Homo sapiens: one gene and its partners. The protein of the gene in region 1 interacts with the protein of each later gene in a pairwise test. Each region holds a gene or a part of one and is shown in the gene's direction. Other genes may lie near its edges. The genes, in order: CCKBR, PTPN11 and ATP13A2.

Region 1 (2,948 bases):
TGCATGCCCTTCACCCTCCTGCCCAATCTCATGGGCACATTCATCTTTGGCACCGTCATCTGCAAGGCGGTTTCCTACCTCATGGGTGGGTGAGACAACCACCCCACCCCCACTTGCCACTCTCCCCGCCTAAAGCTCTTGTGGATGTAGGGGTCTTCCCCGGTTGGCAGGGAGGGGTGTGAGGAAGTCCCACTGATGCTTGTGTAGTGCAAGTTTCCTAGGTGACTCCTTCCTTTCTCTTCCCTTGTTTAGGGGTGTCTGTGAGTGTGTCCACGCTAAGCCTCGTGGCCATCGCACTGGAGCGGTACAGCGCCATCTGCCGACCACTGCAGGCACGAGTGTGGCAGACGCGCTCCCACGCGGCTCGCGTGATTGTAGCCACGTGGCTGCTGTCCGGACTACTCATGGTGCCCTACCCCGTGTACACTGTCGTGCAACCAGTGGGGCCTCGTGTGCTGCAGTGCGTGCATCGCTGGCCCAGTGCGCGGGTCCGCCAGACCTGGTGAGCTTGCCCATAAACTATCCTAGGAATTCCTTTCTCACCCCTATTAGATGCTTACGACCATTGCCCAGAATCTTCCTCCAGCTTCCCGGAGAATTACCACGCCAACTCCTATTCTGCATCCACCACCCTGGAGTTCCAGTTTGGGGCCCCTCCCCAGTTCTCTCTCCCTTCCCAGCGGCACCCCCAAATCCTACTCCTACTTCAGGTACCTGGCCACAGCCCTAGAAACACTAGTCCTTGGCTTTTTCTCCATCTGTGATTACAGCTGGACAGAAACCCGAGTGATCTGTCTGTGTTGCCTTCAGGTCCGTACTGCTGCTTCTGCTCTTGTTCTTCATCCCGGGTGTGGTTATGGCCGTGGCCTACGGGCTTATCTCTCGCGAGCTCTACTTAGGGCTTCGCTTTGACGGCGACAGTGACAGCGACAGCCAAAGCAGGGTCCGAAACCAAGGCGGGCTGCCAGGTGGGGCTGGACCACGTGAGCAAAATCTGGGCGAGGCGGAGCTTTGGAGGGCGACGGGGCCTGCTGGAGTGGGTGGGACTGAAATGAAGGTGAGGGTGAGAAGGAAGCTGGAAATGGAGTTGAGCTGGGAGCGGAGGTCAGGTGGGGACTGGGCTGGAGACTGGGGGGACTCGCCTTTTTCTCTGACCGCCCACCCTTTGTGCTCAGGGGCTGTTCACCAGAACGGGCGTTGCCGGCCTGAGACTGGCGCGGTTGGCGAAGACAGCGATGGCTGCTACGTGCAACTTCCACGTTCCCGGCCTGCCCTGGAGCTGACGGCGCTGACGGCTCCTGGGCCGGGATCCGGCTCCCGGCCCACCCAGGCCAAGCTGCTGGCTAAGAAGCGCGTGGTGCGAATGTTGCTGGTGATCGTTGTGCTTTTTTTTCTGTGTTGGTTGCCAGTTTATAGTGCCAACACGTGGCGCGCCTTTGATGGCCCGGGTGCACACCGAGCACTCTCGGGTGCTCCTATCTCCTTCATTCACTTGCTGAGCTACGCCTCGGCCTGTGTCAACCCCCTGGTCTACTGCTTCATGCACCGTCGCTTTCGCCAGGCCTGCCTGGAAACTTGCGCTCGCTGCTGCCCCCGGCCTCCACGAGCTCGCCCCAGGGCTCTTCCCGATGAGGACCCTCCCACTCCCTCCATTGCTTCGCTGTCCAGGCTTAGCTACACCACCATCAGCACACTGGGCCCTGGCTGAGGAGTAGAGGGGCCGTGGGGGTTGAGGCAGGGCAAATGACATGCACTGACCCTTCCAGACATACGAAACACAAACCACAACTGACACAGGAAACCAACACCCAAAGCATGGACTAACCCCAACGCACAGGAAAAGGTAGCTTACCTGACACAAGAGGAATAAGAATGGAGCAGTACATGGGAAAGGAGGCATGCCTCTGATATGGGACTGAGCCTGGCCCATAGAAACATGACACTGACCTTGGAGAGACACAGCGTCCCTAGCAGTGAACTATTTCTACACAGTGGGAACTCTGACAAGGGCTGACCTGCCTCTCACACACATAGATTAATGGCACTGATTGTTTTAGAGACTATGGAGCCTGGCACAGGACTGATTCTGGGATGCTCCTAGTTTGACCTCACAGTGACCCTTCCCAATCAGCACTGAAAATACCATCAGGCCTAATCTCATACCTCTGACCAACAGGCTGTTCTGCACTGAAAAGGTTCTTCATCCCTTTCCAGTTAAGGACCGTGGCCCTGCCCTCTCCTTCCTTACCCAAACTGTTCAAGAAATAATAAATTGTTTGGCTTCCTCCTGAACTTCCTTTCTGGATTCTTCTGGGGCAGGTGAGGAGGCATAGGATTTTGCAGTATCCTTCTGTCGGGTCTCTCCCACTGTTGCACACTGCTGTGCACAACCCCTTGCCAGAAAGCCCAGCCTCTGAGGTTCAGCGTGGCTGTGCATATTCTTTCTGAGTTTTCATCCTCTACCTACATTCCAATGTTGCAATAACTGTGAATGGGGATGGAAAATGGCATATCCATGACATATCATGATTCCTGATCACATTATCCCAAAGTGGTGCCACTGTTAAGGTACTATATTAATGGATGCTTATTAAATTTTGATGAAAAGATAAAAGAGGAAGCACTGTATAATAAGACTAAGTTTATTCAATGTGTGTTTGAAACACCAGAGATCAGACCATGACAGGTATACAGAATGAATACAGTTAATTAAAGAGTAGGGATTTTTTGCTGTACTCTCTTCCCCAGTGTCAAAACCTGGCCAAGATTCTGCCAAATGGAAGCACTTTTAGTAGCTACAACAAAAAAAGACCTGAATAGGAGTCTGAGAACCCAGTCTCCCTTTTACTATAAGAATGATCTAGCCCCAGAGACAGGCAAAGACCAACAATATCACCTCTTTACACACAATGACAAATGAGGAAGAACAGGAACTGAGGACCTCACTA
Region 2 (2,394 bases), on another chromosome or scaffold:
CATTAACATCTCTGCCTGTTGCTTAAGATCAGTTGCTTTTATACTCAGAATGGAAATACCTGATCTTGGCTAGTTTTGTTATAAGATATTGATTTCATTTAGATTTCCCTCCACGAGGTCAGCAAACTATCATGTTCTTATGTAAACTTAGGCCAAGGCCAGAGTTATCATAGTCCCTAGGTTGCTACGGCTTATCATGTGCTTGGTAAAAGGTGATCGCAGGTTCTCAGACGAGTTTACTTTACATGAGATGGAATCAGGCAGAGAGGCTGGGATGATGGAGAAAGCTCGAGGTGAAGTTTTAAAAAAAAAGTTGTGGAAAGGAAAGTTCCAAAGAGGTGGTTTCTGAGGAAGTCAGAGCGCCCAGGGCCAGAGCAGTCAGTAATGGGTGAATGAGGTTGTTTGGAAAGTCGGTGTGACAGACACATGGATGCCATCTACTTCTAGGTTGCTGGTGGGTATTAAATATGCACAATATTCCATAGCTCACTGAGGATTTTAAAATTATAAGCATAGGATTTTATATTTTGGGGTGAAAGAATTATCTGGCACATTAGGTATTGGAGTTTAAAAAAAAAGCCAAATTTCACAGTCTTAATAACTTTTTTTAAAAAAAACTAAAAGGCGCTTCATGTCCAGTGTGTGGCCCTTCTGAAACTTATGGTCATCTCTCCCACTGAAACCAAGGTCTTTTCAAATGTGGCTAAATGGGGATGAGGAGACACGGGTAGGACTTTCTTGGTGTGTGTGCATTCTTTAAAGAGCCAAGTTGCTTCGGGGAAACAGCCAGGAAAATGGTCAAGATTATTTTTAGAGGTTATTTTATTGGGGATTTTAAGAACTAATAACATCTTGAGTTATTTTTAATTCAGGGGGATGTGGAAAGGTTTGCAATTGTCAAGTGTTTTGTTGTAGCTTAGTATCCATAAGGGAAACTTAGACTATAGACATAACTACAAAGCCAGTGCAGCTTTTGTTTTCTGTATGTTGTTGGGGGATCAACTTTCACACATAGCAAGCACATGGCCTCCCTGATGTCAGGATGCCTTTGTTAGGATCTGTATTTGCCCTTAATTTTGTTGAAATCTTTTTTCCTTCTTCCTCTTGAAAAGTTCCAAAATATAGTTTATTGTATCTTTCATCACTAAAAATTTGTTCCTTTTTCACTATGGGCAGTTCACACAAGGCAAAAACTATTGAACAGTTGGTTTTAGTGTGTTGTATAACTTTGCTGTATATCAAACTAATTTTGACAAGTTTTCATCCTAAGCCTCAAATCATGTAATTAATAATTTGCCTGTTTATTTATGACCTAATTGTGATTCTTTTATTAATAAAAGCTAATGGGAAAAGGATCCCTGATTAAGCTGATGACTAGACCTACAATTAATTTTCCTGCAGTATATGAAGTATTGTACCAGAGTATTAAAAGATATGTAATATTTTATTGATAAATCTATCCTTTAAAAGGAATACGTTTTAGGATGTCATCATTTTGATGTGAATCATGTAAATGTTGATAATATGCTGTTTATTATACATTTAGTGTTTCAAGAGATTCACTTAATTGCCTTTTTGCCCACGTATATTATGTAGTCTATTTGCAACTGTTCTTAAAAAAATGACATTAAAAGAATAGTTTATGTAGAGAAACATTAGTGGATGTTAATTGTCTCCCCACCTATATTTATGGGTGTTAGCGCAACTGCTTTGCTAGTTGCAAAGCTGTATTATCAGAGTAAAAGTGTATTTGTAAACTGTATGGGAACTAAAAATTAGGAATAAAACCATTTTCTTATATGATGGCATTTGTCGTTTGCTTCATCAGAAATGTCCAGGAAAAAAATGGGATTATTGGTCACTCCACCTCTCACACTGGCAAAATACTGACATTTAGCAGCTCTTATCTAGAAGTGACTTGGAACATAGAATAAAGGCATGAGTTCCTGAAGAATTCATTGAGTGTTTCCTGTAGAAATAGCTTTAGGAGATAGGGAGTTCTATCTGGGAGAACATATGAGTAACTCAAGAGTAAAAAGTATAGTCTGTGTAAACTATAGAAGAAATGCTGGGCATGGTGGCGCGCCCCTGTAATCTCAGCTACTTGGAGGCTGAGACGGGAGGATTCCTTGAACCCAGGAGCCCAGGAGTTTTAGACCAGTCTGGGTAACATAGTGAGACCCTTTCTCACCTACTCTCACTGCATGCCCCCCAAAAATATATATGTGCGCGCACGCGCGCGCACACACACATACACACACACACACACACACACACACACAGAGGAAATTGTTAGAAAACACACAGAACTGAATGTAAATAGTATTAGGTGGGAATAAGAAGTAAAGGGATGGTAAGGAGGCTTGGAGGAGGAGTAAATTATCTGCTATGGGA
Region 3 (3,658 bases), on another chromosome or scaffold:
AACCACAGGATAGTGGTTTTTTTCCAGGGAAGTTTTCTGGCTGGCATTGTATTTGTATCACAAATCGTAGGCCAGGCGCAGTGGCTCGCACCTGTAATCCCAACACTTTGGCAGGCAGAGGTGGGTGGATTGCCTGAGGTGAGGAGTTCGAAAACAGCCTGGAAATCATGTTGAAACCCCATCTCTACCAAAAATACAAAAAATTAGCCAGGTGTAGTGGTGCACGTCTATCGTCCCAGGTACTTGGGAGGCTGAGGTGGGAGGATCGTTTGAGCCTAGGAGGTGGAGGTTGCAGTGAGCCGAGATCGCACCACTGCACTCCAGCCTGGGTGACAGAGTAAGACTCCGTCTCAGAAAACAAAAAAAAAGTAGTAATTGTGATCAGTATGATTTGTGGGCACACGCCCTGAGCCCTGCCCTCCACAAACTGTCCACACATACTTCATCTGCTCATCTCTTGTGAGGCAGACATGGCAGGATTGTCTGACTCCCTTGCAGGAATGTGCACACAGTAGGTGCTCAATAGTCCCAGCCTGCAGGCATTCAGTAAGGGAGTGCCACTGTTTGCTAGGCAGCCTGCCCAGGACTTCACAGGGCCATGGCGAGCATGCAGTGCTTTTCTCACTCCAACTCATGGAAATATTTGCCCCCTCCATGTAAATATTTCTCTCCCCTCCCCCTCCTCCTTCCCCCTCCCCTTCCTTACCCCATCCCCTCCCCTCCCCTCCTCTTTTGAGACAGAGTTTCACTCTGTTGTCCAGGCTGGAGTGCAGTGGCACGATCTCGGCTCACTGCAACCTCCGCCTCTCTGGTTCAAGTTATTACCCTGCCTTAGCCTCCCAAGTAGCTGGGATTACAGATGCCCACCACAACACCCGGCTAATTTTTGTATTTTAGTAGAGACAGGGTTTCACCATGTTGGCCAGCCTGGTCCCGAACTCCTGGCCTCAAGTGATCTGCCCACCTCAGCCTCCCAAAGTGTTGGGATTACAGGCGTGAGCCACCGCATCTGGCCCCTTGTAAATATTTCTGTTGGTTGGAGTTAGAAAAGCACTCCATGCATGTTATAAAATAATTCCAGCAGAAAGAGAACGACTCCCCCACCCTGCCCCACTGCACACATGATGCCCACACATGCTCTGTCTGACCCACCCCCCCCCGCTGGTTCCAGGGAGCTGGCTGCCACCTGCTTCCAGGAGTGTCTCCCTGTGCCTTTATATCTCCGTCCTCTCTGAGCCTCAGTGTTCCTCTCTGTAAAATGGGGCTGTGATTTCTTGTTCACACCTGGTTACAGAGTTAACTGAGACTTAGAGCTTGTGGGACAATTCTACACAGAACTCCTGGTTTGCTGGTGGGAGGGAGGGGTGTGGAGTGGTCCTCACACCACGTTCCCCACCAGGAGAGAGCATTCCAGTGCTGAAGACGGCACTGCCGGAGGGGCTGGGGCCCTACTGTGCAGAGACACACCGGCGGCACACACTCTTCTGCGGGACCCTCATCTTGCAGGCCCGGGCCTATGTGGGACCGCACGTCCTGGCAGTGGTGACCCGCACAGGTATGAGCCGGGAGGCTGGGCTTGAGAGAGATCCCGGGCTCAGCACCCTTGGGAGAGGTGGAGTGAGGCAGGGTGGGACCTGGAACCCTGGACCCCACGCCCACCTCTGCTGCTGCCCTGCTGTGGGACCTCGGGCCAGTTGCCCCCCATCTGGGGTCTGAGCATTCCCATCTTAGCAGAAGTTGGGCCAGACTAAGGCCAAGCATTGCAAGATCTGGAGGAGCCGCCGGGGTTACAGTGCTGGAGCGGGCAGGGATGTAGCGGGCAGGCAGGAGCCTTCCCTGTGTCTGGATTTTCAGTGGAACCACCCAGTGTTTAGATGCTATCCACTAGTTCCTTGTTTAAAGCCCTTAAAAAGCCTACAAGAGCCGGGCCAGACCTGTTAGGACTCCACACTGCTGATGGCTAATTTCACAAACATCATGTCTTGCAACTCCAGAGGCACGGGTCGGGAGGGCTAGGGGTGGGGAAGGCCTGCCCTCACCCTGGCTTCCCTGCCTTGGGGTCCCCGCCTCCTCCCCAGGGTTCTGCACGGCAAAAGGGGGCCTGGTGAGCTCCATCTTGCACCCCCGGCCCATCAACTTCAAGTTCTATAAACACAGCATGAAGTTTGTGGCTGCCCTCTCTGTCCTGGGTGAGTGGCCCCCTGCACCCTCCTCTGCCCATAGCCCCCCCCACCTGGGTCCCAAATCCCACTCAGTCCTTCGCTGTCCCCACAGCTCTCCTCGGCACCATCTACAGCATCTTCATCCTCTACCGAAACCGGGTAAGCCTTGGGGGTGGGGTGGGGGGTGCTGCCAGCAGGGCCCAGGGGCCAACCAGCCAGGTGCTCACATTCATGGTGCCCCCTGCCAGGTGCCTCTGAATGAGATTGTAATCCGGGCTCTCGACCTGGTGACCGTGGTGGTGCCACCTGCCCTGCCTGCTGCCATGACTGTGTGCACGCTCTACGCCCAGAGCCGACTGCGGAGACAGGGCATTTTCTGCATCCACCCACTGCGCATCAACCTGGGGGGCAAGCTGCAGCTGGTGTGTTTCGACAAGGTGGGGCCGCAGGTGGGGTTGGTGCAGGGGAGCGGGACAGCCACAGGCGCCCCAGTGAGGCCTCCACACCCGCGTTATTCTCTCAGCAGCACCCACAGGATGCCAGGTCCTGTCTAGGGATGGAAACCCCCAGAGGATCCACCCCATCCCACTCCTGCCCTCACTGGGCTCACGGTCTGGCAGATGAAATGTCTAGAATCATGTATTCATGTGTTCAAGAACTGGTGGGGGGCCGGGCGCGGTGGCTCACGTCTGTAATCCCAGCACTTTGGGAGGCTGAGGCAGATACATCACTTGAGGTCAGGAGTTCAAGACCAGCCTGACCAACATGGCAAAACCCCGTCTACTAAAAATACAAAAGTTAGCCAGGCATGATGGCACATGCTTGTAATCCCAGCTACTCGGGAGGCTGAGGCAGGAGAATCGCAGAGGTTGCAGTGAGCCAAGATCATGCCATTGTACTCCAGCCTGGGTGACAGAGCAAAACTCAAAAAAAAAAAAAAATTACTGGTGGGGACCTGGGGCCCTAGTGTGCATCCCGTGCTGCTCCCAACCCTTGGGGCCCAGCAGTGACCAACACAGGCATCCTTGTGGTCACTGGAGTGTGTGTGTCCCCCACCAAAGTAAGTGATCCAGGAGTGCACAAAGGAGCTGCTGGGGCTGAGGAGTGGGCAGTGGGTTTTAGGAAGGAAGCCAGTGGGATAGCTTGATGGGTTCTAGATGGGGACACTTCCTTAGAGAGAAGGCAGTCAAGGAAGCCCCCTGAGCAGGTCCCTCAGTGACCTCAGTGAGGGGCAGGTCGAGGAGAAGCAAGGGTAAAAGGTGGGAGTGTCATAGCACAGATGTACCGTGTGCCTGGGGCACAGGGAGTGGCGTGGCACAGATGTGCTGCGTACCTGAGCACAGGGAGTGGTGGAGCAGGACAGGGCCGGGTAGGCAGTGGCCTGGTTGACAGAGGCTAGGTGACATTCAGAGGCTGTCGGGGGCCACAGAGCGCTTTTAAACTGGGGAGGGGGCCCAGCGCAGTGGCTCATGCCTGGAATCCCGGCACTTCGGGAG

Evidence for each region.
Region 2: the proteins of CCKBR (region 1) and PTPN11 interact in binary tests that used the Homo sapiens proteins (3 or more experiments, as listed by UniProt).
Region 3: the proteins of CCKBR (region 1) and ATP13A2 interact in a two-hybrid assay, tested with the Homo sapiens proteins (one study listed by BioGRID and IntAct).

Annotation. Positions count from the first base shown.
Region 1 is NC_000011.10:6,269,836-6,272,783, forward strand, and holds the end of CCKBR (gastrin/cholecystokinin type B receptor), read left to right. Parts: coding exon 1-85; intron 86-252; coding exon 253-502; intron 503-810; coding exon 811-968; coding exon of another isoform or gene 969-1,175; coding exon 1,176-1,708; 3' UTR 1,709-2,292; downstream 2,293-2,948. UniProt on the Homo sapiens protein: Receptor for gastrin and cholecystokinin. The CCK-B receptors occur throughout the central nervous system where they modulate anxiety, analgesia, arousal, and neuroleptic activity.
Region 2 is NC_000012.12:112,508,111-112,510,504, forward strand, and holds the end of PTPN11 (tyrosine-protein phosphatase non-receptor type 11), read left to right. Parts: 3' UTR 1-1,808; downstream 1,809-2,394. UniProt on the Homo sapiens protein: Acts downstream of various receptor and cytoplasmic protein tyrosine kinases to participate in the signal transduction from the cell surface to the nucleus. Positively regulates MAPK signal transduction pathway. Dephosphorylates GAB1, ARHGAP35 and EGFR.
Region 3 is NC_000001.11:16,994,917-16,998,574, reverse strand, and holds part of ATP13A2 (polyamine-transporting ATPase 13A2), read left to right. Parts: intron 1-1,399; coding exon 1,400-1,555; intron 1,556-2,078; coding exon 2,079-2,189; intron 2,190-2,274; coding exon 2,275-2,321; intron 2,322-2,410; coding exon 2,411-2,599; intron 2,600-3,658. UniProt on the Homo sapiens protein: ATPase which acts as a lysosomal polyamine exporter with high affinity for spermine. Also stimulates cellular uptake of polyamines and protects against polyamine toxicity.